2 linked regions of the Homo sapiens genome follow. The protein of the gene in region 2 purifies or fractionates together with the protein of the main gene of each other region. This does not show direct contact. Each region holds a gene or a part of one and is shown on either strand. Other genes may lie near its edges.

Region 1 (11,863 bases), on a different chromosome or scaffold from region 2:
CATTTTATAACATTTACACATATATTACATGGGCTCTCTTTTTACCATTTTAAACAGCTGCATATTGCTACAATTCAACCAAAGATTGTGCTAGTACTACATGCCATATGCCAAGTTGGCTGTACATTCGAAAGAGATACAGAAGGTAGGTCTCTTCCTTTCCTTTCTCTCACTATCTCTAGCAAGATGAAAACACTCCGCATATGTATTGTATTTGTTGGGATTTGGAGGAGATTAGAGGGTGGACAGGAAGGAAAATATTTAGAACTTAAATTCTTCTTGGTTTTGGATCTGGATTACACAATATTTCCTCTTCCTGAATAACGTATACTAAGAGCACTGAGCATTTACCAATATGCTTCATTGGCCATTAAATTTGCACACAGGAAAAAAAGCAACTAAGCCACAAGATGAGCATTCAGCCATAGCATCCACAATTGAGAACTAGGTGGGCAAAAATCAAAGGAAAAAATGAAGAGAAACAAATGAATGTTGACCCATTAATGAGGCTAACAATATTTACTGAGCATCTGCAATATGCGAAGTATCACCTTCAAGGAGCCACAAGTGGTATAGAGATCAAAGATACCTAAACTAAGCCCTCAACAACCTTACATCTAAGTAGACCAAACAGCACAAGGACCTAAATAACTCTAAAACAAGGCAGAAAGGGATTGGAATCAGAGATACCGACCAAACGGTATGAAGATTCAAAGGAAGGAATGCTTGCCGCTCAGCAAGAGAGATAAGGTGAGCTTCAAGTCTAATGTGGTCCTCACGACTACAGGAGGAGTTACAGGAGGTTGGCTGGGCTCAACATCTTTTCAGCAGCTGCTGCCACATATAGAAAAATGAACTGGATCACTCTTGGTATGTAGATATAGAAGTTAACCAGGAAATGTGTTGGATCCTGTTTGCATCTTCTTTAAACTCTTAAAATAGACCAATTGAACCACGATCTATGTGAAATCAAGTTCAGTTGAAGTATTACTAAACAATTAACTTCACTTAGTATTCCCATCATGGATAGCACTGGACCAATTGGTGACCTCAAAGATTAGACAGTTTTTTAAATTAATTAATAAATTAATTAATATTTATTTATTTATTTTTGAGACAGGGTCTCACTCTGTCACCCAGGCTGGAGTGCAGTGGCACGATCTTGGCTCACTGCAACCCCTGCCTCCTGGGTTCAAGCAATTATTGTGCCTCAGCCTCCCAAGTAGTTGGGATTACAGGTGTGTACCACCATGCCCAGCTCATTTTTTTGTATTTTTAGCAGGGACAGGGTTTCACCATGTTGGGCCAGACTGGTCTTGAACTGCTGACCTCAGGTGATCCGCCTGCCTCGGCCTCCCAAAGTACTGAGATTACAGGCGTGAGCCACCGTGCCCAGCCTAGGCAGTTATTAAGTAGCCACTGCCCCTATAATGCCACTGGCTACCAAGTGAAGATAGAGTCTGTGCCCTTTAGGGAAAAGAGCCCAAGGAAAGGATAACAGAACATATCCAGCTACACACTAGAATCACATGATAGCACTTCAGGGAAAAGACCAATATGAAACAGAACTGGGAATTGTCCCACAAGGACAGCAAATATTAAACACCCCAGAATATTCTAGTGATGTCAAAAATGACCTTACAAAATGATCCAGGTCATGATGGACAGAAAGGGAGCTGGCTGAGCGCTAGCTGTGGCCCTAGCTATTTGACTTTTCTTCCCCAGCTCATCTTTATCCCAGGAGATCCTACTCTATGGCATGAGAATTCTCCCTCTCCACTTGGGCTGCAGACAAACCTTTGTGAGCTAGATTTTTCTGGGCTCTGTGAGTCATAATGTCTCTGATGTCCTCTGATTAATTTTGGTTGTTATCTATGGCCACAGAACTTGGATGAGGAAAGACTTCTAAACAGCAAACAAACAAAACTTGGGGGGCCACAGTAAGTCACTTACAGAAAGTGAATTTACAAGCCAGCTAAATGATTTCTCAAAGTAAAGGCCCTACCTTTCTTTATATAATGTTTGCAGACCTTTATGTTGTAAAGATAAAAGCAGTTTTGAAGATTAAGATATAGGATGTAAATAGAATGTACATATAGGATTTGTGTACATATGGGAAAACTGGTTATTTCACTTTGAGGGAATAGCTTTAATTTAATTTGAAATTGTATTAAGTGGTGGGAATGTAAAATGGTATAGCCACTGTAGAAAACGGTTTGACAGTTTCTCAAAAAGTTAAACAGAGAATTATCGTATGACCCAGGATTTCCACTCCTCGGTATATACCCAAGGGGACTGAAAACACGTTCACACAAAAACATGTAACAAGTGTTCATAGCAGCATTATTCATAATAGCCAGAAAGCAGGAACAACACAAATGACCATCGGCTGACGAAAAGATAAAGAAAATGTGATATATCCCTACAATGGGATACTATTCAGCCATAAGAAGGAATACGGTATTGATAAATGCTACCGCCTCGATGAGCCTTAAAAACATTATACTAAGTAAAAGAAGCTAGACACAAAAATCACAGGTTACATGATTCCAATCAGATGAAATGTCTGGAATAGGAAAACCCACAAACACCTAAAGGAGATAAGTCGTTGCCAGCAGCTGAGGAATGTGAGTCATCAGGGATGTTTTCTAACGGGCACAAGGTTTCTTTCTGGGCTGATAAAAATGCTCTGGAATTAGATAGTGGGATGGTTGCACAACTTCGTGGTTCTACTAAAATGCACAGGCTCGTAAATGTTAAAGTGGTGAATGTTATGGTGTACTACATTACATCTCCATTTTAAAATGTATGAAGTACCTTTACTTACCAAGCACTGCGTTATAGTCTGAAGAAACCACGGAAACAACTGTCCTGCCACTAAGGCACTTACTACCTGGTAGGGAGACACGCAAACAAACAGATACAAATAGCCAAGCATAGAGGTGCTTGGATGGGCATTTGTGTGGTACACAGCAGAGCCCAAAAGAGGAGAGGTCTGGAGAGACTCCACAGGAAAGTTTCACCCGAGCTGAATCTCCAACTGAACTTAAAAAAAAAAATTAATAATCCTTTGGTCTTCTCATGTAATATCAAACAGGGAGAGAGGAGAGCTAGGGTCTTAATCTAACACTACCCTCTGATTATACCATAGACCTTAGGAAAGTCATTTACTTCTCTGGACCTCAGTCTCTTACTTCCTACAAAAGTAAGGTGTTGGCTGGGCACGGTGGCTCACACCTATAACCCCAGTGCTTTGGGAGGCCGAGGCGGGCAGGTCATTTGAGGTCAGGAGTTCAAGACCAGCTTTGGCCAACATGGTGAAACCCCATCTCTACTAAAAATACAAAAATATTAGCCAGGCATGGTGGTGCATGCCTGTAATCCTAGCCACCCAGAAGGCGGAGGCACAGAGAATCGCTGGAACCCGGGAGGCAGAGGCTGCAGTGAGCCAAGATCACACCAGTGTGCTCCAGCCTGGGTGACAGAGCAAGACTCTGTCAAAATAAATAAATAAATAAATAAATAAATAAATAAATAAATAAATAAATAAATAAAGGTGTTGATATCAAAGGTTTATTTCTACCTTTGAGAAATATCTAGAATCCTCGTGCATATCATATCATAGTCTATCTAAAATCCTGACATACTTAAATCCTGATTCTGCAAAGGGTTTCTCTAGTGTATTCTGGGTGTGCTGCTTTCTGAGATTGAGAAAGGAATCTTCCTGCTGGCTACCTCTACACGCCCTAACAAACAGCACACAGACTATGCTTCCTTCCTGTTGGCAGCCTTCATCTTCCACCCCAGGGACAGAATCACCCATCTGCTGACCACGTATTCACCTTATATTACCTTCCTACTGGTAGCCTTCGTCTTGTAGTCCATAGACAAATCAAGCCTGTGCTGGCCACCTGTCCACCCCAATGAGTAACACACAATCCATATCCCCCCTCTTTTTTTTCTTTTTTTTTTTGAGACAAAGTCTCACTTTGTTGTCCAGGCTGGAGTGCAGTAGTGCTATCTCGGCTCACTGCAACCTCTGCCTCCCAGGTTCAAGCAATTTCCCAGCCTCAGCCTCCTGAGTAGCTGGGACTACAGGCGCCCACCACCATGCCAGGCTAATTTTTGTATTTTTTAGTAGAGACGGGGTTTCACTATGTTGGCCAGGCTGGTCTCGACCTCCTGACCTCGTGATTCACCCATCTCGGCCTCCCAAAGTGCTGGGATTACAGGCGTGAGCCACTGTGCCCAGCCTCCACACAATCCATATTCCCTTTCTGTTAGCAGCTTTGTCTTGTACCCATGGCCGTCACAGGTCCATGGCTGATTTGCCAAGTTAACAGGAGTCCATCCATAATAATCAGCACTGGGTCATGCCCCAGAATCATTAGGATCAAAGGATGGGAAATCAGGGATTTCTTTGAAAGTAAGCCACTCTTAGTAAGATTCAAATTTGTTTAAAGCCTGGATTAAAACAATGCCAAACAATAAACTTAAACAGACTGCTTTACCCTCTGACTTTAAATAAGATTAGTTTTTAAGTACATTTAATTAAAACGAATGGGGCATTGCAGCATATTTACTCACTCAAGGAAGTAATTTACATGGGAACATTTCATGTGAAAATAGTTACTTGCCCACATTCCTAGGACTAAAAATAAAATAAACAAAACAAAAAGCAACCATCAATAAAACAAAAAAAAAGCTGGACCAAGTAGATTCAGCCAGTGGAACTAGGTGAAAAGTGTCTTACTTCTACCTTTTTCTTTCCACTCTCAGATCATTGGGCTATTTTCCTTTTACTCGTATTTTGGGTAAATCATATCTATTTTACAGCTCAAATCGCAAATCCTACTTTCTCTTTCCCTTCAGTGATATTTCTTTCCTTTGAAAACTAATTGTATTTGTTATCTAGACAATTATTCAACTTCTCACACATTTGGGTGAGAAGAAGAGGGGGAAGTATTTATCGAGCTCCAACTAAATGCCAGCATTTCTAAAATACGTATTTTCTCTTAGGGCTCATAATACCGCTGCAATGTGGGTAGTATTATCCACATTTTATATACGAGAAAACTAAGGCTCGGACATATTAAGTCACTTGCCCAGGTCACAGAACTGCAAAGAGCAGAGCTGGACTTTGAACTTGGCAGCGAGGTCTGACCCCATAACCCTGAATTTGCAACCAGTTTGCTTTGCAGCTTCTCCTGGCCTCAGCTACTTGAAGGCAGGGGGACAATTTAATGCCGAATTGTATTCTTCGAACATAGTGATTTGATTTCTGCGAACATTCACTCATTCATTTACTCATCACTCACAGCTTTTTTTCCATGCCAGGTACTATAATGGAATAAAAATAAGAGCACAGCTCTCTCCTTGCCCTCAGAGAGGACCTCAGTGTATGAAAAGGGAGAAGCTTATAAACAGGCAACTTGAACAAAGATGTGCAGAGGATGCTATGAAAACACAGAGGAGGACGAGGCAAGAGGTAAGATCAGGCCGGCCCAGAGGAGGAAAAGCTTAACCTGCAGCCTGCTGGGCCTCAGAGAAACTGGGGAGACTGTGCCAGGCAGCAGAATTGCACATACAAAGAGAGGCCCAACGTGAAAGCATCCTTCAAACATCTGTGACAAAGAAGACTGATGCGGGTGTTTGGGGGTTAAGAGTGGGACGTGATAGAAAGGCTTAACCGTCAAGAGCTTGAAACGTATGATTCTGGGAAATATGATTAAACTAATGGAATGAGAAGCCTAGGGAATTGAAAAGGGGTTATTGGTAACTATAAATAAAAAAAAAATGCAAACTATCTAATGCTTTCCCAAATAGCTGAAACCTCAAATCCCTCTCCATTCATGCCCTTGCAAGATGTAGAAGTAACTGGCCACCACCTATCATCTCCATCCTCAGGAGAACAAAAGTTAAAGTAAGACTGCTGTTTGGGGGGAACCATATCCCATCAACAAACCGGATGAGGCCCTGGGGACCCAGCATGCTGGAGGAACAGGAGGCCACAACACAGTGTGTCTCCTTGCCAGCAGCAGATGCCGGTCACTACTTTGCCTCTCAAAGTAGCCTAGTCAAAGCCATCAGTCAGGAGAGCGGGTCTGAGGGCAGGAACCACATGCTGGTCCTTCTTACCAACTTTCCCAGGATGTATTTTTTATGGCTAGCTCAAACACTTCTCTCAAATGTAATAGAGGGCCTTCACAGCTGAGTTTCAGGGTTTGGAGAGAATTAAAACCTTTTCCCTGACACAGACTCTCAATGTTACCAGGAAGATGCTATAGAAAAGCTCCACAGCATCTTGAAGAATATGCTGTCTTTTTGACAACAAAGCCATTTGTGGCCTATGGCCTACTATACCCAAGACGCTTCCCCTAGCCCTCTGACATACAGGTCTGGGGTTGCGGATTAGTGAATGGGGTAAGAAGGGCACACTAAAAGAAAAATATTATAGTGTTATATGTTCTACTTAGTTTGAAAACAGGTTGGTATTGCTTTAAGAAACAATAATGTACCCAAGAGGTTCTCTCACTTACGTGATACCCTGAGTATCTGGGTCTTGGGAAACCATTCCGAGTGAAGACAACACCTGGTGTGCTGCATGTAACAGAAAGGTCTCAGCAGGTGCCTGAATCAGACATGAACCACCTTTCTCTCTTCTGGGATATGAACTGCTTTTCCAGGGAGGGGACTGCCAAGTCTACTTTGGTCCCTGCTCTCCAGTCCAGAACATTCTGCTTTGGGATTTGGACTCAGCTGACAACATAATCACTGAATCCTCTCCAGATATCCTTGGGGCTTTTGATAATAGTGCCAGTCTCTTGTTTGTTTGTCAAGAAGGTAATCGCCCTAAATATGTTCTTTCGTTTGTATGAGACCCAAAAGCTCCAAAGGACAGAAAGAAACACAGGTTCAAAAACTTCACTCTAATTTCCTACAGGAGAGTAAGGGAACATTCCATACAGACAGCTTGTATTTACGAGCTAGAGGAAGGAAATCTTTGCTAATTTTCCTGGCAACAGCAATATACTTTATGGGAGTCTTCAAATTTGAGTTGCTGAAGTACGTAATTAGCAATATTATTTACAAACTTTAGGTGTGCCAGTGTTCAGCGTACCTCATGAATGACCCACTCTTATGCTCCTCAGGCTGAGGCAGAGTGACATCATGGTTGAGACCACGAACCTGGGTGTCAGGCAGACCTAAGCCCAAATCTAGTACTTATGTGACCTTTGGCAGGTCTCTTAACTGCATATGCCCCAGTTTCCTTCTCTGTAAAATGAGATAAAAGTAATTCCTGCTTTGTTGAGTCATTGAGAATATCAAACATGGAAAAATCATGAAACACTTGGCACAGGCGAGGTATGGTGGCTTGCGCCTGTAATCTCAACACTTTGGGAAGCCAAAGCAGGAGGACTGTTGGAGGTCAGGAGTTTTAAACCAGCCTGGGCAACAAAGTGAGACCCTGTCTCTAAAAAAAAAATCAAAGAATTAGCCAGGCCTGGTAGCATGCGCCTGTGGTTCCAGCTACATGGGAGGCTGAGGCAAGAAGATCACTTGAGCTCAAGAGGTGAAGGCTGAAGTGAGCCCTGTTCTCACCACTGCACTCCAGCCTCAGAGACAGAGGGAGGCCCTGTCTCAGAAACAAAACCAAACAAAAAAAGACACTTATCACAATGTTTGAGATATAGTAGGCCCTCAATGAATGACAGCCGTTCTTCAAGAACAGTACTACATCTACAGTCAGAAGCTGCAGAGGCTGTTTCGTACGTTTACTGATCTATTTCATTGATATATGCTCACTGATATATTTTTGCAGAAGCTATTTTGTATATTCACAGATCTATTTCACTGATATATGCCCACTGATATATTTTTGCGGAAGCTATTTTGTATGTTCACTGATATATTTGTTTTGCCCACTTTTCCCATCTTCTTGCTAACTCATTGCTGTTGTTAAGTGGGGGAAAACAATTTCTTCCCTTGCAACATCCAAGGGTTGTTTTGAGCTTTACAAAGGACACATATGCATGGGGACACTTGGAAAATCATGGAGTCCAGCACAACTCAAAGCAGGGATTGAGCACCAGACAATAACAGGAAGCTGCAGCATCGTGAGATCTTTCTGGCAGCTGGAGGAGGCCTTTGCCAAATATTCCCAAGCACCCTGCCAGGAGCTGCTCCTGAACACTCTGGGGCTTCGTAGCACAGGAACATGCATGGCTGCAGGAGGGCGCACTTCCTCCAAGCACCTGTCCTAAACAGGATGCTCTGAACACACAGTGGCTTTCTGGGAATCCCACGTCCTGTGCAGCATCTATAGTTCTGGGCCTCTATTGTTTCACAGCATGGAAGGCAAACAATAGAAATTATTTTTAACAATAATAAACAATTTTTTCTTATTTTATTATTTTAATTCAGCCTCCATAGAGACTGTCAAAAATGACTAATGCTGACTATATTGCAATTCTATTATTATTACTGAAATTAACATTTAGTGGATGCTTTTGTGTGCCACTATACCAAACACTTTGATATGCACGTTCTCATTCTTTAAATTTATTTTTATCTTTTTTTACAATTTTTAAAATTGAGATAGGGTCTTGCAAGTTTGCCCAGGCTGGTCTTGAACTCCTAGGCCCAAGTGATCCTCCTGCCTCAGCCTCTCAAGTAGCTGGTACTATAGGCCCACACCACCATGCCCAGCCAGGTTCTCATTTAGTTCTCATAATCAATACTGCCCTTAGACACACGCAAGCAGGGCCCCTGCCCTAACCCCATTCCTTCCTCAAAAATGTCTAAGTGCGCTCTGGTACCTGGGATCGCTGGGGCCAGCAGTGCTGTCTGGATGGGGAATCTGAGCCTCCTCTTCACAGATCTCTCTAGTGATCCTCTGCATCTCTCCCATACTGTGCAAGGGGTTGGCCAGATGCCCCAAGGAGCCCCAGGAGTCATGCCAATGGGTTTCTTGGGGCCCTGGAGCTGGCTCCATTCTAGGGGACAAGCCTAGCAAGCAATCACTTCCTCAGGCTGGTGTGGCATTTCTTTCCCAAGACTGAAACAGATTGAGCTGTTGACACACTGCTTTGGGTGACTCAAATTGTTTATATAGACAGGAGCCCTACAAAAAAAATCTGCCCAGGGCCCCATCTACTCTAGGGATAGGCCTGCTCAAAGCAATCCTATAAGGTATGCATTCCCTGCCTACCTTAGGGACAGAGAAACGCACTTGGAATCACTAACTTCCCAAAGTAACACATTTAGTGAGTAGAAGAGCTGGGAGTCAAATTCTGGAATGTCCAACCTCAAAGCCACACTTAACTAATCTCCCAGATTTCCTTATCTGCCTCCACTAAGATATGGATATCCCAATGATGATTACCTTTCCTGTATCCAGAACTCTCTCGGATACTGTTAATTCTCTTGTTCCCAAGTGAGGGAATCTGCTGATAAGTCATTATCCAGCATGCTTTCATTAAACTACAGCTTACCTGGCTTCCCCTTGCCTTCCTGCCTTCTCCTCCCAACAGATCTTATCTCTTTCAAGAGCAACAGTGGCTCATTCCAAAAATATCTGATTTGAGTCTGTTTGAGTAGAAACATTCCATAGAAGCATCGAAGTCATTCAGAATAAAGTGTTAGCTCCAGCAGAAATCTACATGTTTCATTTTTATTCCTATTTGTGGAATAAAACATTTTTTCCTCAATAAAGGGATTCTAGGTATCCCCTAGTATGTGGATCTGATTTTTGAGGGAGGTGTCATTTGCTACAATAGGCATACTCAGCTGGTTCTGAACAAAGTCTTCTTAGCAGAGCTTGTAAGGGGACTGGGCAGAAGGCATGGCTTCTTCATCCCCGCTCCCTGCTCCCCTAAAAAGGAATGTGCCTGGAATCATGAAGAGAAGACTGTTAAGAGTAAGAGACAAGGAGCTGTTACCATCAGCAGCTGTCGAAGTCGGTATCCTGTCTTGCCTGAGCACTGATCTGCTTGTCAGCCCTCTCTGTCCCAGCCAAAGCTCTGTATAGGCACAGTGAGATACCGCTTCACACCCACTAGGATGGCTAGAATAAAAAAGTCAGATAAGGCCGGGCGCGGTGGCTCATGCCTATAATCCCACCACTTTGGGAGGTGGAGGCAGGCAGGTCACCTGAGGTCAGGAGTTCCAGACCAGCCTGGCCAACATGGTGAAACCCCATCTCTACTAAAAATACAAAATTAGCCAGGTGTGGTGGCACATGCCGGTAATCCAAACTACTTGGGAGGCTGAGGCAGGAGAATCATTTGAACTCAGGAGGCAGAGGTTGCAGTGAGCCGAGATCACGCCATTACACTCTAGCCTGGGCAACAAAGCAAAACTCCGTCTCAAAAAAAAAAAAAAAAAAAAAAAGGCAGATAATAGCAAGTGTTAGCAAGGATGTGGAGAAACTGGGACCTTAATATGCTGCTGGTGGGAATGTAAAATGGAGTAACTGCTTTGTGAAATAATCTAGAAGTCCTTCAGAAGGTTAGACATAGTTATTATATGACCCAGAAATTCCACACCTAGGTATACACCCAAGAGCCCTGAACATATCATATGTCCACATAAAAACCTGTATATGATGATCCTTTTGATGTGTTCACACACGCGTGTGTGAGGTGAGCCACCCTCGAACCTTGTTATGACATTGGCACATTACCCATCTGACACGAAAAAAGAAAAAAAAACCTTGTATATGGATATGCATAGAGGCATTATTCATAAAATCCAAAAGTTGGAAACATCCCAAATGTCCATCAGCTGGTGTAAGCAGAAACAAATTGTGGAATATCTATACGGTGAAATAGTATTTGGCCATAACAAGGAATAAAGTACTGACACGTGCTACAACATGGGTAAACCCTGAAAACATGCTAAGTGAAAGAAGCCATAAACGAAAGACCACAGATTATAAATTCCATTCACATGAAATATCCAGAATAGGGAAATCTAAGAGGCAGAAAGTAGATTTTGATTTCTTAAGGCTGAGAGATGGGGATGAAGAGGTTGGGGTGGGGAGGCGATAGCTAAAGGGTACAGGGTTTCTTTTTGAGGCAATGAAAATATATATGTAACATATCAGTTGCATACTAAAACTCGCTGAACTATAGACTTTAAATGGATGAATTTTACAGCATATGAATTATAACTCAATAAAGCTGTTGAAAGCTGATTGCAACAAAACAGAACATCTTAACTCCAGTACTTCAGCTAAACTGAATCCAATTCAACTCTGGCTGTCCAAGAATGACGAGGAATGCGTTATGCTTCCTGGCTTATTTGACTTAACTTCATACATTCGTAGGGACCATGGTTAATTGCCTTCTGCTTCCTGTACCAATTCTAGGTCTGACTTTGACAAGGTGTGAGCAGTTGGGTAGGTATCATCTTCATTAACAAAGGCACCATGATAACTTCAAAGTCTGAAAACTCCCAAGTGCAATAACTCTATCCTCAGAGTGGGCCTTCTCCACCTCTTTCCCAGGCAGAGGGATGAGTGACACGTTTTAATGAGCTTCACTGAAAAGAAGCCTCAACAAGTTCTCTCAATATTAAAACACTTTCTTTTTATTTTATTTCTTTTTTAGAACATTTCACAAGACGAGCCCTCCCTACACAGTGACACAATTTGGACCTCAACTTTACTTATCTTTTGCTAGCCTCCATCTCCCCCCTTGAATATTTCCTTTCCATTCATCCTTTGTCATATGAAATAATAACATCTACAGATAGAGATCTTTCTTTTCCATCATACTTCCTATTACTGACAATTATTCATACCAAGTTTGGAAAGAGATACATTTGTTACTGAAGATCATAAAATCCTGGACAAAAATAT
Region 2 (11,863 bases):
CGAAGCCTTGATCACTCTGTCTACTGCATCTCAATACTCTACGCAGCTTTTCTTGAGCACCTACTATGTGCACAGTGCTTTGCAAGCCTCAAATGTCACGTGACTCTGCAAGGACTGTGTCACGATCCTCATGTCATAGTGGAGGGGACAGATTCTTGACTGTTACCAAGGTCAAGTGCATGGTTGGTACATGATGAAGCCAGGATTCATATCCATGTGGAGATTGAGCCTCCTTAGCAACAGGAATCCTGGCCATTCTGCTCATTGTTATATTTTCACTCCTGGCCCATCAGGGCAGTTAATAAATAATGGTTGAAAGCATGAACTCAGGGCCTGGTCAGCCCCAAAGCTCAGGCTCCTAACCGTTCCTCCATATTTCTTTCTGCTGCCCAGGAATAAATCTCCCCCTACAGAAATATCTCAGTGAGGCTGGGCACCGTGCCTCACACTTGTAATCCCAGCACTTCAGGATGCCAAGGCGGGAGGATCGCTTGAGTCCAGGAGTTCAAGACCAGCCTAGGCAATATAGCAAGATCCCATCTCTACAAAAAATAAAAAATTAGCCAGGCATGGTAGCACGCACCTATAGTCCCAGTTACTTGGGAAACTGAGGTGGGAGGATCACTCGAGCCTGGGAGATTGAGGCTGCAGTGAGCTGTAATTGCGCCACTGCCCTTAGCCTGGTGACAGCAAGACCCTGTCTCACAAAGAAAGGAGAAAGAAATATCTCAGTGACACTTATTCACACAGTAACCACCCCTGAAAAGATGTTTGCATAAAGGCTAGATGATTGTCTCTTAGGAACACAAATAACCTCCTGAAGACTGGAGGAGGAACTAGCAGGTCTTTCATGATCTCCCTCAATTTTATTTTATTGTATATTTTTTTCTTTGAGATAGAGTCTCCCTCTGTCACCCAGGCAGGAGTTCAATGGCACAGTCTCAGCTCACTGCAACCTCTGCCTCCTGGGTTCAAGCAATTCTCCTGCCTCAGCCTCCTGAGTAGCTGGGACTATGGGTGCGTGCCACCACGCCCGGCTAATTTTTTTTTTTTTTTTTTTTTTTTTTTGTATTTTTAGTAGAGACAGGGTTTCACCATGTTGACCAGGCTGGTCTCGAACTCCTGACCTCAGACGATCCGCCCATCTTGGCCTCCCAAAGTGCTGGGATTACAGGCATAAGCCACCACACCAAGCATTTTTTTTTTTTTAATAGATAAGGGCTTCCTACATTGCCCAGGCTGATCTCGAACACCTAGCCTCACCTTTTTATGTGCCAGGACAACAAGCCTGAGCCACCACGCCTCCCCTCAATTTTCTTATAATTAGTGTTACTATTATTGTCATTATGTCCATCCAAGTGCACAGGTGGGAGTCATTGCCACTGGAATGTACATTCAAATCCTTTGGCAATGGACATGGAAACACAACCCCAAGGGCAAAACAAGTTGAAACTCTTCAAAGTCAAGATAGCGGTTACCCTGGAGGGGGAAGAGGTTAGTGACAAGGTGGATATATGAGGCTAGCGTTCAGGGGGCTGCTCTGGTCCTGTTTCTCTTTTTGAGGCAGGGTCTTGCTCTGTTGCCCAGGCTGAAGTGCAGTAGTGCGATCTTGGCTCACTGTAGCCTTGACCTCCCAGGCTCAAGTGATCCTCCCGCCTCAGCCTCCTGAACAGCTGGGACTACCATACCCATCTGATTTTTGTATTATTTGTAGAGATGGGGTCTCGCCATGCTGCCCAAGTAGTCTTGAACTCCTGGGCTCAAGCGATCCTCCCCTCTGGGCCTCTCAAACTGCTGGGATTACAGGCATGAGCCATTGCACCTGGCCCCAGGTCCTGTTTCTTGATCAGGATGTAGTTTGCGTGGGTAGCTCCCCTTTGTGAAACCTCAGCAGGCTGGATGTCATCAAGCTGCACATCTCTGTAGGAGTGATTTTAATTGGAAGGTGCAGACAGAACACTCAAACTGATTGTTCTTGCTGTGTTAGGATCTTGGTTAAGAGGGCCAGCTTTAGATGCCCATTGCTGGCCTTCGACTCCAGATTACCACTCGCTAGCTGTGTGGCTTAACACAAGCTGCTTAACCTCTCTGTGCCTCAATTTTATTAGCTGGGAAATAAGTCTGCAGGGCTGTGAGTACCCAAGCCCTTTGTACTTCATTTGGTAAAAAAGTTGGAACCTTTAAGCACTGTTTAGATCTTGCTTTATTTTGCTATTAATTAACAAATGACATTATGTTATTTTTTTTTATTTTTTATTTTTTTGAGATGGAGTCTCGCTCTGTTGCCCAGGCTGGAGTGCAGTGGCGTGATCTCAGCTCACTGCAACCTCTGCCTCCTGGGTTCGAGCGATTCTCCTGCCTCAGCCTCCCAAGTAGCTGGTAGCTGGGACTACAGGTGCCTCCCACCACACCCAGCTAATTTTTGTATTTTTAGTAGAGACAGGGTTTCACCGTATAGGCCAGGCTGGTCTCAAACTCCTGACCTTGTGATCCGCCTGCCTCAGCCTCCCAAAGTGCTGGGATTATAGGAGTGAGCCACCATGCCCAGCCTTTCTTTCTTTCTTTTTATTTATTTATTTATTTATCTTTGACATTGAGTCTCGCTCTGTTGCCCAGGCTGGACTTCAGTGGCACGATTTCGGCTCACTGCAAGCTCCGCCTCCCAGGTTCAAGCAATTGAACCTCCCGAGTAGCTGGGACCACAGGTGCCCAGTACCCCGGCTAATTTTTTTTGTATTTTTAGTAGAGATGGAGTTTCCCCATGTTGGCCAGGCTGGTCTTGAACTCCTGACCTCAAATGATCCACCTGCCTCTACCTCCCAAATTGCTAGGATTACAGGCATGAGGCACTGCGCATGGCCGATTTTTTTTTTTTTCCAGCGAATGCATTTCTGGTTGGAGTATTCTACTTGCTTCCAGTGTTGTGAGTATGAAACCAGATAACACACATCAAGTGCCCAGCACAGTGTTTAGCATGCTGGTGCTCAATCGATGCTGGCTGTTAGTACTAGTTTCCTTTTCCTAAGATATCAAAAGGCACTGGGCGAGAATTTCTTGGAAACATGTTTTCTCCTCTAAGCCCATCCTGTGGCAGTCAACATATGATGGGCGTTTCTGAGGTCAACTTTTTGCTTATTGGAATGCAATGTCACTGTGTCCCAGGCTTGGCTTTTCCGTGTGTTGTAATTGTAGCAACACTGGAAGCACATACTATACCACGAAAATGAAATGCGTTCTGTAAAAGGAAAAAATCTTAATGTCATTTGCGAATTAACAGCAAAATAAAATAAAACACTGCCTCTTTCAGGCCCCTCCCCGAGGTTTCAAACTGCCCAGGAAATAAAGTTCTCAGGGCTGGTGCGGTGGTTCATGCCTGTAATCCCAGCACTTTGGGAGGCCGAGGCAGGCAGTTCACCCGAGCTTAGGAGTTTGAGACCAGCCCGGCCAACAGAGTAAAACCTCGTCTCTACTAAAAATACAAAAATTAGTCGGACATGGTGGCACATGCCTGTAGTCCCAGCTATTTGGGAAGCTGAGGCAGGAGAATCGTTCGAACCTGAGACGTGGAGGTTACAGTGAGCCAAGATCGTACCACTGGACTCCAGCCTGGGCGACAGAGTGACTCCATCTCAAAAAAAGAAAAAAAAAAAGTTATCAGGCCTGCAAACCTAGTAGGACCCCTCAACCCATTTCCCAATTTCATTTCACTCCTGTCCTCCAAATCCCTCTCTAATGTTCCAGCCCAGCCGAACTCAACGCCTGCAAGAAGGGTTCTGCATTTTCCCAACTCCAGGCCTTTGCTTACAGACCTCTTAGCGGGTGAACAGGACAGCTCTGCCCTCTCTCCCCAGCATATTGCAGTCAAATTCTACTCATCCTTTAAGAGCTGTTTCATGCACCACCTCCTCCCTGAAGCTTCTCCTGACTTATTCCCAGCTGGGAAGGACCTCCTCTCACCCCTGCCCCAGGAGGAATCCATGGATGTGGGTTTTTTGTTGTTGTTGCGTTTTTTTGTTTATTTGTTTTTTGAGACGGGGTCTCGCTCTGTCGTCCAGGCTATAGGGCAGTGGCGCGATCTCGGCTCACTGCAGCCTCTGCCTCTTGGGTTCAGGCAATTCTGTCTCCTCAGCCTCCTGAGTAGCTGGGATTACAAGGGTGTGCCACCACACCCAGCTAATTTTTGCATTTTTAGTAGAGATGGGGTTTCACCATGTTGGCCAGGCTGGTCTCAAACTCCTGACCTCAGGTGATCCACCCACTTTGGCCTCCCAAAGTGCTGGGATTACAGGCGTGAGCCACCGCACCTGGCCTAGATGTGTTATTTTACATAGCAAAAGAAACTTCGCAGGCTAGGCAAACGCCTGTAATCCCAGCACTTTGGGAGGCCGAGGCAGGTGGGTCTCCTGTGGTCAGGAGTTCGAGACCAGTCTGACCAACATGGCAAAACCCTGTCTCTACTAAAAATATTTTAAAAATTAGCTGGGCATGGTGGCACATGCCTGTAATACCAGCTACTCGGGGAGGCTGAGGCAGGAGAATCTTTTGAACCAGAGAGGCTGAGCTTGCAGTGAGCCAAGATTCCACCATTGCACTCCAGCCTGGGTGACAGAGTGAGACTCCATCTCAAAAAAAAAAAAAAAAAGAGAGAGACTTTGTAGATGTGATTAGATGAAGGATCTTGAGATGGGGGAGGTGATCTGACATTAGGGATGGGCCCAGTGTAATCTCAAGAGAGAAGCAGGAGCGTCAGCCTCAGAGGAGATGTGATACCGGGACAGGAGACAGGGGTCACAGTGACGCAGCCATGACCAGGGAAGGCAGCAGCTTCTCAAAGCTAGAAAAATCAAGGAACAGACCTCCCCTGGAGCCTCCAAAAGGAACTAGCCCTGTGGACACCTTGATTTTAGCTCTGTAATCCCCATTTCAGACTTTCTTCCAAACTCTGAGATAATGACTGTATGTTGTGTGAAGCCACTAAGTGAGGGGTAAGTCGTTACAGCAGCCGTAGAAAACTAACACGGGTCTAGAACCATCTGGTATATTTTGAGGTTGGTCTCAATGGACTGGTCAAGAGATTTATGCCATGAGTTAGACTCTCTGCAGAATTTGGATGAATTAGACATTGAACACAGGTCTGACCCTCTATTGCTATGCAGGATTGGGCATCAGGTCACCTCCTGGTTGTGTTCAATATCAAACGTTACTCCAGGGAGACTGAAGTGATCAACTGGGCTTCTGGAGGCAGCGCTCCCAGGACTGAACGGGGCCCTGGGGAAAACCACCCCACATATGCAGCCTTCTAGATTAGTCCTCCAGCTCTGCTCCTTCCCTGGAGGGACACAAACAGGGTGGAAGGGATGACTGATTCTGGTCAGCACTCTCAGATGGGTGACCCTGGGCAAGGTGAAAGAATGTTTCTGAGCCTGAGTTCCTTCCTATGGAAAATGGAGCTAAGAACAGACATATTTTGCATTGACATATTTTGCATTATCACATTTTGCATTGCTATAAAGGAATACCCAAGACCGGGTAATTTATAAAGAAAAGAGGTTTATTTGGCTCACGGTTCTGCAGGCTGTACAGGAAGCAAGCCACCAGCATCTGTTTGGTTTCTGGCGAGGGCCTCAAAAAGCTTTGGCTCATGGCAGAAGGCAAAGGGGGAGCAGGCATGTCACATGGTGAAAGAGAGAGAGAGAGAGGAGGGAGGGATCTTTTAAACAACCAGATGTTGCATGAACTAATAGAGTGAGAACTCACTCATCACCAGAACAACACTAAGCCATTCATGAGGGACCCACCCCCATCACCCAGACACCTCCTCCTAGGCCCACCTGCAACATCACAGGCTTCAACATGAGATTTGCAAGGAACAAAACATTCAAACCGTAACACATACTTATCCAGCCATACTGTTGTGAGTCAGGAGTGAGAAAATGTGTGTCTAAAATTATATTCCAGGCCGGGCATGGTGGCTCACGCTTGTAATTTCAGCACTTTGGGAGGCTGAGGCGGGTGGATCACCTGAGGTCAGGAGTTCAAGACTAGCCTGGCCAACGTGGTGAAACCCCATCTCTACTAAAAATACAAAAATTTGCTGGTCGTGGTGGCGCATGCCTATAATCCTAGCCACTCAGGAGGCTGAGTCAGGAGAATCACTTGAACCCAGGAGGCGGAGGTTGCAGTGAGCCGAGATCGCACCATTATATTCCAGCCTGGGCAACAAGAGCAAAACTCAAAAAAATAATAATAATAAATAAAATTATATTTAAAATGCGAATTGTATCGGCCCTGTGTACTAAAGGAGCTTGTCCTAGTGAAATAACCACCTTCTTCTCCCAGTAAAACCCATACAAGGACTGACATTGATTTTAAAGCCCTGTGAAGGCGTCAGCCTGAGATTATGCTGGTTCTTCTCTTGCAGGTGAAGTCTATTACAGGAGCAAATACCTGAGAAGCGATACCTACAACACCAATATTGAGGCAAACAGGATTGTGGTGTCTGAGTTTGGAACAATGGCCTATCCGGACCCCTGCAAAAACATATTTTCCAAGTAACTGCCTATTTTAAATCTGAGCAAATTTCATGCTTTTTGCTATCCTTGATGGCTGAAATAACCAGCATTTGCTCCTCTGACAATTCTCTTTAGGGTAGATGAAAACTCCACATGACTGCCCTTTAACCAGAGGTGCTACACAGTTCTTGATCACTGATTGCCAGAGAGACTAAGAGCATTTGACAAATTATTAGAAGCCCTCCCACATGGCTGGTGGGAAAGCGATTTGGAATCATCTGTCAAAATTATAAATGCGTATTCCCTTCAGCCTAGAGATCTGCTTACTTGCATAGAAAATGACACATGCACCAGGTATTTGTCATTTATGGCTGCATCATTTGTTATAACAAGTAGCTGAAAACAACCCAAATGTTCATTAAAAGAGGACTGGTTAAATCCGTAACAGTAAAACTGTACGAGAAAATGCCATGTAGAAGTAAAAAGGAATGAGGATGTTCTCTTTGCACTCTACAGAAGCTTTTCCAAGATAGACTAAGTGGAAAAAAAAAAAAAAAGGAAGGTGTAGAAAGAGCATGTTATAAGCTGTACTTTGTGTGAAAAAGCAGTAAGAAATCTAAATTAAATTTTGCTTGTACATGCATAAAGAAACTAGGAAAGGATGCACAGGGGCAGATGGATGTTGAGGAGAGGGAGAGATTTTTTGCTGTATATATTTTATTTCATTTCATTTCATTTTATTCATTTATTTATTTATTTAAGATGGAGTTTCACTCTTCTTGTCCAAGCTGGAGTGCAATGGCGCAATCTCAGTTCACCGCAACCTCTGCCCCCCAGGTTCAAGTGATTCTCCTGCCTCAGCCTCCCAAGTAGCTGGGATTACAGGCACCCACCACCACGCCCGGCTAATTTTTATATTTTCAGTAGAGACGGGGTTTCACCATGTTGATCAGGCTGGTCTTGAACTCCTGATCTTAGGTGATCCACCCACCTTGGCATCCCAAAGTGCTAGGATTACAGGCATGAGCCACTGCGCCTGGCCACTGTATACATTTTAAATCATCTGGATTAGTATCCATATGAATGTGTTACATATCTGACAGTTAAATTCTTGGCCAGGGAATCAGGCCTGCCATCAGTATCTTCTTTCTGAAACTCTCTAGATGTAGAAGAGTTATGAAAGAGTTGAAGGGTGGACTGGCCCAGAGATGGAAGATTGCTTCTGCTTTTTTGAGAACTGAAGTCATCTCTCCCATTCCAGTATCCAGCTCTAGGGCTAGCTCAGAGCAAGCACTGAATTCACATTTGCAAATAGGAGGTGTGGAGTAGGAGCCAGTGAGAAAGGAGGAGGAAAGAGCAAAGGAATTTAAAACCACCATACTTACCTGGTAGGGGAGATAGCAGGATCACGAATTTGAAACCACGACCTGGAGGTCCTGGAACCAAGCCTCCTTTTTGTTCCAGTGTTTGCCAGTAGGAGGAGCACTCCCCAATACACCGATACAGGATTTGCCAATTTCATCACCCATAAACCCCTCTGGTTTTTCTTTCTTCTTGCTTTGAGTATACCTTCTGATCAAATGAGCTATGTGTTCTTAACTCATAATTAGTTTGTTTTCCTTTTTAAATTAAAAACTAATTTCCTGGATAAATTCGAGATAACCAGTGTGGACTCACATTCCTGGCAAAGCAGATATCAGCTACGTTGTTAGGCTTTGGGAGCCGTTACGGGTTCATATACGATTTCCGTAGAGCTTCTTGACATACTTTGGAACAGTATGTCTTGCTGGCTCTGATGTTAGAGACCTTTGGGTTTTGGGGAGCCCAGGAGGATCAGCTGGTGACCATGGCATTCCGGCCGACTCATTTCTTAGCTAACTCAACGTGGAGGTGTCTTTGGGGTGTCTGAGTTCTTAGGATTCCTCAGGTGACCCATTGGGACCCAGTTGCTTTTTCTTCCTTAGTTGAAGTAAAGCATTTTTTTTTTTTCTTTGAGACAGAGTCTCGCTCTTTCGCCCAGGCTGGAGTGTAGTGGCGCCATCTCGGTTCACTGCAAGCTCCGCCTCCCGGGTTCACGCCATTCTCCTGCCTCAGCCTCCCGAGTAGCTGGGACTACAGGCGCCTGCCACCACGCCCGGCTGATTTTTTGTATTTTTTAGTACAGACGGGGTTTCACCGTGTTGGCCAGGATGGTCTCAATCTCCTGACCTCGTGATCCACCTGCCTCGGCCTCCCACAGTGCTGGGATTACAGGCACCCGGCCGAAGTAAAGCATTTTTAAGTGGTAGGAAAACTAAAGCCATCAAGGATAGACTTCTCTGGCTGGGTGGACATAGCCACTGACTCTGTTGATTTGCTTTTCTCCCCAGAGCTTTCTCCTACTTGTCTCACACCATCCCCGATTTCACCGACAACTGCCTGATCAACATCATGAAGTGCGGAGAAGACTTCTACGCGACCTCAGAGACCAATTACATCAGGAAAATCAACCCACAGACTCTGGAAACCCTGGAGAAGGTATCAACACATATGTAACCAGCATCACTTCCTGACTCAAGAAAGGGAGAGTCGGCGACGGCCGGGGTGAGGTTGCTCAGCCTGCAAGCAGCTTACCAGGGGAGCCCCTCCTCTAACACCGTTGGATCCCGTGCCCTAGCGCCACACTTACTGCTAGATGCTAGGCAGGGACTGTGTTGTTTTTATCTTCGTGTCTGTATCAGTTTCCTGGGGCTGATGTAACCAAGTCCTACAAAAAAGATTGCTTTAAACAACAGAAATTGGCTGGGTGTGGTGACCTACACCTGTAATTCCAGCACTTTGGGAGGTCAAGGTGGGCAGATCACCTGAGGTCAGGAGTTTGAGACCAGCCTGGCCAACATGGTGAAACCCCATCTCTACCAAAAATACAAAAATTAGCCAGGCGTGGTGGCATGTGCCTGTAATCCCAGCTACTCTGAGGCTGAGGCAGGAGAATCGCTTGAACTCAGGAGGGGGAGGTTGCAGTGAGCCCAGATTGCACCACTGCACTCCAGCCTGCATGACAGAGTGAGACTCTGTCTCAAACAAAAACAAAAAAAAAAAAAAAAAAAACAAGACAAACAAATAAAAAAACAGAAATTTACTCTCTCACAGTTCTGGAGGTTAAAAGTCTGAAACCAAGGTGTCAGCCCGGCCATGCTCTCTCTGAAGACTCTAGAGGAGGGTCCTCCCTGGCCCCTTCCTGGCTTCTAGCGGTTGCCGGCAACCCCTGGTGTTCCTCAGCTTGTAGATGCATCCCTCCAGCCTCTGCCTCAGTCTTCACACTGCCTCTCCTTATGGGGCTATGTGTCCAAATGTTCTGCCTTTTTTTTTTTTTTTTTTTTGAAAAAGTGTCTTGCTCTGTCGCCCAGACTGGAGTGCAGTGGTGCGATCTCAGCTCACTGCAACCTCCGCCTCCTGGGTTCAAGCGATTCTTCTGCCTCAGCCTCCTGAGTAGCTGGGACTACAGGCACGTGCCACCACACTTCACTAATTTTTTGTATTTTTGGTACAGATGGGGTTTCACCGTGTTAGCCAGGCTGGTCTTGATCTCCTGACCTCATGATTGGCCCTCATGATTACAGGCGTGAGCCATTGCACCCAACCATGTTCTGCCTTTTATAGAGACACAAGTCATTGCATTAGGGCCCACCCCAGTGCAGTATGACCTCATCTTAACTTAATGACATCTATAAAGACCTTATTTCCAAGTAAGGTCACATTCACAGGTACCCAAGGTGAGGACTTCAACCTATCTTTTTTGCAAGACACAATTCAACCCATAACTCTGTTCATAATTCTTGGCACTGAGGGAGTTCACTGAGAATTTGAATGAATGACTGTTGAAATGCCTGCGATTCTCAGCAATCCTACCTTCTATTGACCTGAAGAGGGAGGCATTAGGCAAAAAGCTAGGGCACAAAAATCAGTGCCCAAGCACATACCTTTCCTGGGAAGAATCAAGTCAACATTTTGGTGGGAATCAATAGACCCACTTTCAATTTTCTCCAGCTGGCTGTTCAAAATTCCGATGTCTCTGCAATACGTTTTAACGATCTGTTAAAGAGATGAGGCTTTTCTTAGCTGTGAAATTATGTCCAGCTCCTTTTAAGCTAGACGGCATCGGTCCAACTGATGATGCTTTCCACAGGGCTACAGAGAGGAAATGCTGGAAGAGAAAGGAGTTATCTGACTCTGGGCTGGAGGTTGTGTTTTTCTAGGGGAGGAAGCGCAGACGGTTGGTCTGCGGCCACTCCATCATTCTGCAGCTGTGGACTGCAGAGTGAGGGTCATTATTCAGCTCGTTGATCAAACTTCACTTTGACCAAATGTTTTTGTAACCTCTCCATTCCCAGAATAATCGTCTAAGAGAGGCCTAGAGATTTATGCTTCTGTGCAATGCAAAAGGGCAGAATTTAAGCCAGAATGACAGAACTGTGGCCAAGATTAGCTCGAAGGCTACCTCTCTGCCCAGGTCATTGCTCAGAGCTTTCTGCAGTGAGGAATCTTGTTTCCATGTTGAGGATTCCAGCAAGGTCAGGCAACAGGATTGGAACGATAGCCACAGAAGCACACCAGCTCCCTAACTCCCCTGCAACCTATTAGCTGTCTGAGTCCCTCAAATCCCCATGTGAGGTTGTATAAGGTCACAAGAGTGAAAGTCTTCTTTAAAAGCAAATTCTGTATCGTTTTCAGATCAACAGAGTGCAAAAATATCCCTCATCTCTCTGAACCTAGAATCAGTCACGTTTTCATAGGACTTCAACCTTTCTCCTTTGAAAAACCAGATGATGTCATATCTTGCAGGTTGATTATCGTAAATACTTTAAAAAACAGGAGGTGTCATATCTTGCAGGTTGATTATCGTAAATACGTGGCGGTAAATCTGGCAACGTCACATCCCCATTATGATGAGGCTGGAAATGTTCTAAACATGGGCACATCCATTGTGGAAAAGGGGAAGACAAAGTATGTGATTTTTAAGATCCCTGCCACAGTACCAGGTAGGCCACTCTGGGGAATTGAATAAAACACAAACAACCAAGTGTGGCTTCTTCTGAAGAGTTCTGTTTTTCGTTGATGACACAAGATCCAGTGTGGTACTTTCTCCCGTAGATTATTGAGGTGGACCATGAAGTCAGTACTTTCCTTTAGAAGAGAAGAGGAGATGCTGGGATTCCTCTTGGAAGAAAGAAATCCCTTTACTATTCTAATTTCCTTTTATTTAGGCTCCAGTTTATTATTTTATTAATTTATCTACCCATCTACCATCCATCCATCCATCATCTATTTACCATCCAACCATTCCTTCATCTACCATCCATCCATTCATG

The links.
Region 1: the proteins of BCO1 (region 2) and ABLIM1 purify together in Homo sapiens (affinity purification with mass spectrometry; 2 studies listed by BioGRID and IntAct, with this or other methods). This does not show direct contact.

The regions. Positions count from the first base shown.
Region 1 is NC_000010.11:114,645,901-114,657,763, forward strand, and holds part of ABLIM1 (actin-binding LIM protein 1), read right to left. Parts: intron 10,695-11,863; exon of another isoform or gene 10,595-10,694; intron 1-10,594. UniProt on the Homo sapiens protein: May act as scaffold protein. May play a role in the development of the retina. Has been suggested to play a role in axon guidance.
Region 2 is NC_000016.10:81,253,255-81,265,117, forward strand, and holds part of BCO1 (beta,beta-carotene 15,15'-dioxygenase), read left to right. Parts: intron 1-6,421; coding exon 6,422-6,551; intron 6,552-8,881; coding exon 8,882-9,029; intron 9,030-11,385; coding exon 11,386-11,533; intron 11,534-11,863. UniProt on the Homo sapiens protein: Symmetrically cleaves beta-carotene into two molecules of retinal using a dioxygenase mechanism.